Linked DNA regions of Homo sapiens. The protein of the gene in region 1 purifies or fractionates together with the protein of each later gene. This does not show direct contact. Each region holds a gene or a part of one and is shown in the gene's direction. Other genes may lie near its edges.

Region 1 (3,523 bases):
TCACTTTTGGGGCCCCACAGCTGGAGCCGGTATAATGACTGGGACAACATCAAGGGGTGGATGAGGGGCCTCTCCTCCCGCAACACTGCCTTCCCATGCTGTTCCCCTGCCAGCTCCTTAACACTGCCGACCAAGGCCAGCCCTGGCATTCAGGGAAATTGGAGGGCAGCACCCGTAGGGTGGCCAGCCTCAGGCCCCACCCCAGCTGTGTCCTCTAGTCTCTGGGGACCCCTGGGGGGAAGAAGTCTACCCTGCTTGTGAGTCCCGTCTCAGTGTGGAGGAACTGGCTGCACGTGGGACCTGAAGGTGCCCTCTGTGTTTATGTTGGGGGTGGGGGGGCAGTGCTGGCTGCCTCTGTCCTGTGTGTGACCCTGCCCTCGAAGGGTCCTGTCCTGTCAGTCCCGAGGGAGCCACAACCAAAGCTGCGGAGAGAAGGTGGGGAAGGGTGCAGAATGGCCGTGGGGCACAGCGTGGCAGACTGTTCAGTCTCTGCTGGGTCTTTCCTAGGGACCTGGAAGGCCAGTGTTGCTTCCCCCTCACTCCCTTTCACTGCAGGCAGCCTCTCTGCTTCCCCAATGCCTTATGCCTGGGCACACTGCCACAGAATATGCAATATGTGTGGGTGACCATGCCCTCACGACCACACCCCCACCCCGGGCAGCCCCCGGACTCCAAAGGTCGTGGCTGCCACAGCCTCCCTCAGCTCTTCCTGCCTATCTGTCTTCACACTGAGAATGGCGCCCAATAAATGCTATCCACGGAGACCAGGCTCAGGCTCCAGCTGCCTCTGTCATCGTATGCCCTTGCTGCTGCCAGGGAGGGGCCATCTCCCACCCCCTCCCCTGCCGGGGTCTACAAACATATCTAGCTGCTGGGTGCCGTGGCTCACACCTATAGTCACAGCACTAGGCGGGCAGATCACCTGAGGTCAGAAGTTCAAGACCAGCCTGGCCAACATGGTAAAACCCCGTCTCTACTAAAAATACAAAAATTAGCTGAGCGTGGTGGCGCATGTCTGTAGTCCCAGCTACTCGGCTACTCAGGAGGCTGACGCACGAGAATCGCTTGAACCCGGGAGGCGGAGGTTGCAGTGAGCTGAGATCGTGCCACTGCACTCCAGCCTGAGCGACAGAGTGAGACCCTGTCTAAAAAAAAACAATAATAATAAAATAAAATAACATACCTAGCTGACTCGCCATGGGCTCGCTGGCCTGTGGGCGACACTGGCTTCCCTTTTGGGATTTCCCAGAAGATCCAGATTTTCTTAAGTCCCCTTGGAACAGACTAAGAAAGGATCACCTTAGAAATCACCTGGTCCTATTGTCCCCCCCGTACATGAGTAACTGAGGCCCACAGAGAGCAAATCGCCTGCCTGAGTCACACAGCAGTGAGTGGCAGACCTAGGCTAGGAACTAGGACTGGGGATTGCTATTCCAGTGCTCCCCATCCTCACACAGACTGCACAGTCCGCCTGGACACACCCCAGCTGACAGTGGTACCTCCCAGTCAGCCAGGAGAATGGATTCCTTCTCCTGCAGTAGGGGCCCCCTGGCTGAGTGGCCTGATTGACTAAAACATATGTCTTTGAAGGAGAGTGCATCACAAGCACCTTTCTTTGGGGTAGATTTTTCTCTGGGTCTAGAGGGACAGCTCAGGCTTGGGACTGGGCCTCAGAACCTACGACAGACCGTGAGAGCAGACCCACCTTATCCATCTGGTGCCAGCTCCCCAGGTCAGCTACAGCGACCCCCGGACTTCATAGAGTACAATCCACAGTAATAGCACACAGCTCTGTACCTATCTAGCTCCATGCCTATCTATCTGCCTACCTTTCACAAAATAATTCTTAGCAACCCTGCTACAGCCAATGATTCTAATACGTTCTGTTCTATTGCATGTTATAAAATGCTGGTCACGATCCACTAAATTGATGTCTCTACCTGCTAATGGTTTAATACCTGCAGATTGAAATATACTGGAGAAATAAAGAGAGTGGGAGTAGGGACACTTTCTCCCAGTGCCCACACCGCCCCTCGTTACCCGCATAGGTCAACTGAAAGATACAGAGAGGGAAGCTTTGATGGGGGGTTCAGAGTTCAAAGGAAGAAATGATGGCACCTGCACTCCCTGCCCCCAGAGGCAGGACACAGCCAGCCCTCCTGTGACAGCACTCCTGGCAGCTCCTTGTTGGCCTGCAGCCCTCAGGGGGCTTAGTTGCCATTGACTCACCCACTCCTAAGGCCACCACATCAAAATCTGAGGCTTACTGCCCTGTCCCACCTGCCTCTGTCTTTCTTAAAACAGCTAAATGCAACAATAGCAGAAATTAGCTTGTTTTTGAGGTTGGCAATGACCAGTTCAAGGTGACTCTTATTTTCTTAAGCAGTGCTTGCAGGACATAAATGTGATGACACTTGCCCTCCTTTCTTTATCGCCTGGGACAGACTTTACAAACAGACCTGGGAGAAGTCCCCTAAGGGGCTGCATTTATCCCCATCTCCCTAGGGGTGATCAGCATTGTGACAGCTGGGCAGAGCAGTGGTGAACTGCACCCATGTCCCTGCTCACATCTCCTAAGATCTCAGAATTGCCTGAGGTTCTAGCGTGGGCTCCTTCTCTCCAGATGATGCCATCCCCACCCCCCTCATTTCCACACAGCATCTGAGGCATCCTGCACTAAAAGATATATGTACAGCAAAACAAAAATAGAAAACCAGCACAGCAGAGTGGAGGTGGGGTATAAATATACCCAGATCCCCGCTGATTTGGTTACTCGGGGTGAGCATCAGATGGAAATAGAAGTTTCCGGGGGCCAAGAGAGAAAGAGGGATGTAACGACAATTCTTTTCAAAACGTGTCCCATGGTATGCCTCGTGGAAAAAATGGTTCGTTGGTCAAATGAATTTGGGAAAATGCTGTCAATATCACCGACTCATGGAGCTTCGCAAGGCATCTTAGCTTAATAAAGGTTATGAAAAGTCTTGCAGCAAAGATGCTGTTTACCCCTGCTTAATCCAGCACTGCCCAAACTCATTCCAAATACCAGAGCCTCTGTTTGCACGACATCTCTCCGAGCCCTGTATGTCACAGCACATGCTTTGGGAAATGCTGATCCATCGAAATCTCACTGATGAAGAGAGAAGGCTGATCCTTCCTCCTCACCCCACACTAAATTATAAAAGAAGTTTAGCTTGCAAGTCCTTCTATAAGTGAAGACTACAACAATATAAAATACATATGTTATTCTCAATTGCGTGCCAGATTCGACCAAGGCTCAAAGCAGCCCGCTTGCTCAATATCAGGCAGTGAATTGATGGCAAAGCGGGGATTTGAACACAGGCCGATGGCTGCGAGGCATATGCTCTTACCCACCTGCTGTGTACTGTCCCATGATGATCCACATCTTCAGCAAAGGTGTGGCAGAAGTTCAGAGCTATTTATGATGTGGTCATTTCTTATTCAGAACCTCGGTGAGAGAGGAGGCTGTAATCTAAAGATGTCATCCTTCAAAGATGACAGATTC
Region 2 (3,824 bases), on another chromosome or scaffold:
AACCTAAATGCTTGGAAACTGAGCAGTTTATATTTTGATCAGCTAAAGTGTTAACTATTGAGTCATCATAGCCTTTTGGGGTATTATCTTTACCACAAAAAATATTTCTAAAATGGCTGGACGCGGTGGCTCACGCCTGTAATCCCAGCACTTTGGGAGGCAGAGGCGGGCACATCATCTGAGGTCAGGAGTTTGAGACCAGCCTGGCCAACATGGTAAAACCCTGTCTATACTAAAAATAACAAAAATTAGCTGGGTGTGGTGAAGTGCGCCTGTAATCCCAACTACTTGGGAGGCTGAGGCAGGAGAATCACTTGAACCCAGGAGGCAGAGGTTGCAGTGAGCTGAGATCGTGCCACTGCACTCCAGCCTGGGCAACAGAGTGAGACTCTGTCTCAAAAAAAAAAAATGTTTTTCTAAAGTGAATCAGTATTATATTTTTTTATCTTTTCGGTTTGTACTGTATTGACTATTCTTAGCGACAGTGACATACTCATTTTAATTTGAATATAATTTACATTTCGTGGAAAATTATTATACCAATTGAGAATAAAAGGTGATCTGATTCTAGAAAATTATCACCATATTTGTTTAATCCATGAGAATAATAATGGTTATAAAAATAAAACCCCATGGCAGGTAAATGCAGTGCTGATCTTGGATCAGAACAACAGCAACAACAAATTTCTATGAAGGACATTATTGGGACAGATTGAGAAATATGAATATGGTGTGTATATTAGTTAATAGTATTGATCAGTGTTAAATTCTCTGATAATTATAATGTGGTTATATAAGAAATTATCCTTACCCTTGAGAGAGATACACTAAAATTATCAGCAGTAAAGAGCAAATGTGGGCCAGGTGTGGTGGCTCATGCCTAAAATCGCAGCACTTTGGGAGGCTGAGGCAGGTGGATCACCTGAGGTCAGGAGTTCGAGACCACCCTGACAAATATGGTGAAACCCTCCCTGTCTCCATTAAAATACAAAAATTAGCTGGACATGGTGGTGTGCAACTGTAGTCCCAGCTACTCAGGAGGCTGAGACAGGAGAATTGCTTGAACCCAGGAGGCAGAGGTTGCAGTGAGCCAAGATCTTGCCACTGCACTCCAGCCTGGGTGACAGAGCAAGACTCCATCTCAAAAAAAAGAAAAGAGCAAATGTGGGAAGATATTAACTGGTGAATGTAGGTGAAGGATATACAGGAGTTCACTCTTAGAACTTTTTTATCAGTTTCGAATTGTTTTTAAGTGTGCATCTTTTAAATGTTACATTTTCCTATGGAGTCAAATAATATCACATTTAACGAAATTGTTAATAATTTATGAATGTTATCTAATACCAAGTCTATATGTAGATTTTCCCAGTTATCCCAAAAGCCCTTTTTGTTTAGTTTGCCCATTTTGTGACCATGTATCGTATTTGGTGGTTATGCCCTTTCAGTCTCTTAATTTTGGACAGTATCTTTTTTTTATGACACTGATTTGTTGAAGAGACCAGACCAGTAATACTATAAAATGCCCCTCTTTCTGGATGTGTATGGCTACTTTCTTACGTTGTTTAGCTTGTTCTTTGACTTCTGTTACTTTCTATAAACTGTAAGTTGGAGCTTTAGCTTTAGCTTGACAGAGTCAAAGTAAACATTATCAGTTTGAATGTGTCATGTGCTATTATTTCATATTGCAGTGTATCAGGAGACCCAAACTATCTAGTTCTTCCACCACTAGTGGTTTTGTTATTGATTAAAGAATTAAAGTGATGATAGATAAACCCCACCATTCTGCAGTGAAGATTTTTTTCCTGTGACCAGAAAGATTGGTGTTAATTCTTGATTTTTTCTTCTTTTTTAGGATCTGGTTATGGATATCCTAAGAGTATTGAGCACACCAGACTTAGAAGTACGAAAGAAAACTCTGCAGTTAGCACTGGATCTTGTCTCTTCTAGAAATGTTGAAGAGGTAAAAGGAAACTCTGACAGCACTTTGTAGCTATCAGGCCCAAATATGATGTAACTCTCACTTATTTTTACTTCATTCTATAAGCTGGTTATTGTCCTGAAGAAGGAAGTGATAAAAACAAATAATGTGTCTGAGCATGAAGATACTGACAAATACAGACAACTCCTAGTGCGAACATTGCATTCCTGTTCTGTCCGATTTCCAGATATGGCTGCAAATGTTATTCCTGTGGTATGTAATTCTGATGACTTTAATTTTGAAATTATCTAAAAGAATTTTTTAAAAAATATAGTTATTTGACAAACTCCAGAAATCTCAGCTGCCTAGAACCATTAAATCTCATGGTGAGAAGTGATCTTTATATCTACCTCTACCTTTAAACTCAGAAGGGTGAGGACTGACTTCTTTCACTTATATATTCATCAAAAAAACAAAAACAGTGACCAAAAAAAAGCTTTGCATATTATTTTAATTGATGATACAGTTACCTAAAGTAAAATTATGCTGTGTATATATATTATTCAGTAAGGCAAATAGGTATTTATTTTAAATAGCTTTAGCTCTTAAAGGAATCAGTTATAGGAAAAATTCACATATGTAGAATATTTTGCTGTCACTGTCAGATAAGTGAGGTATGTTATTATAATTTGATTTTTGCCTTTGAGCTCTTGAGTTCTCTCTAAAATGATTTTAGTTACAATTTAGGAGGATCGAATTCATTTATTTATTTGGAGTTTTGGATCTCTAGCTTATCTTTTATAGTGAATTTTAAAATAAATTTTGCTGCACATAAAATGGAAAAGCCATTGTGACTTTGTTTACATAATAGTACTTGTCTCTCAATTTACATTTTGTTGTGTATTTGAAAATTATTAAGAATTACAAGGGTCAGGCATGGCACTTCATGTCTGTAATTCGAGCACTTTGGGAGGGCTAGGCAAGAGGATTACTTGAGGCCAGGGATTCAAGACCAGCCAGGGCAATATAGGGAGACCCTGTCTCTACAAAAAAATTAATATTAGCTAGGCATAGTGTCATGCCTGAAGTCCTAGCTCCTGGGGAGGCTGAGGCTGCCAGAGGATCACTTGAGCCCAAGAGTTCAAGGCTGCAGTGAGCTATGATTGTGCCACTATTCTCTAGCCTGGGCAGCAAAGCAAGACCCTGTCTCTTAGAAAACAAAAAAAGAATTACATTCTTTTAATTTATTTCTTGTCCTAGATAATTTTCTTTTCGAAAATTGTTAGTTCCATTTTCTTTTTTTTTTTTTTCTTTTAGTTAATGGAATTTCTCAGTGACAACAACGAAGCAGCAGCTGCTGATGTCTTGGAGTTTGTTCGTGAAGCCATTCAGCGCTTTGATAACCTGAGAATGCTTATTGTTGAGAAGATGCTTGAAGTCTTTCATGCTATTAAATCTGTCAAGTAGGTTTAAAATACATTTAAATGTAAGGTCAAGTAAGCATTTTATCAGTTTTTATCTTTAAAGGGTCAGTTGATAGAAAATAGAATGGAGAGGACAATCAAGCCAAAATAAGACAAGTTTGTACAACAAGCATCTCGCTAACTCCACTCTCATTTAGTCTATAATAAATGGCCCAAAATAATTTTTTTAGGAGTGATTTAGCTCAGGGTCTCTATTCTGATTTTCTCTAAAACATTGTGAATCTTAAAGTAACTAAAGAGCATATTTTTAAATGGCATCACTTTTTGGCTATTACTATTATTTATATCTTCCTTTCACATTTAATGAAGAGAAAGATTGAAAATGCAACCTAAATCTGTCTTTCCCTTCAGAGAGCCTTTGCTAATGAGAAAGGACTGTTGCATCTAAATTTTGCTTCATTTAAAGCATCTGATGGATAGTC

Evidence for each region.
Region 2: the proteins of KCNK3 (region 1) and COPB1 purify together in Homo sapiens (affinity purification with western blotting, with the first as the bait; 2 studies listed by BioGRID). This does not show direct contact.

What each region holds. Positions count from the first base shown.
Region 1 is NC_000002.12:26,730,430-26,733,952, forward strand, and holds the end of KCNK3 (potassium channel subfamily K member 3), read left to right. Parts: 3' UTR 1-2,991; downstream 2,992-3,523. UniProt on the Homo sapiens protein: K(+) channel that conducts voltage-dependent outward rectifying currents upon membrane depolarization. Voltage sensing is coupled to K(+) electrochemical gradient in an 'ion flux gating' mode where outward but not inward ion flow opens the gate.
Region 2 is NC_000011.10:14,479,126-14,482,949, reverse strand, and holds part of COPB1 (coatomer subunit beta), read left to right. Parts: intron 1-1,852; coding exon 1,853-1,960; intron 1,961-2,044; coding exon 2,045-2,191; intron 2,192-3,235; coding exon 3,236-3,381; intron 3,382-3,824. UniProt on the Homo sapiens protein: The coatomer is a cytosolic protein complex that binds to dilysine motifs and reversibly associates with Golgi non-clathrin-coated vesicles, which further mediate biosynthetic protein transport from the ER, via the Golgi up to the trans Golgi network.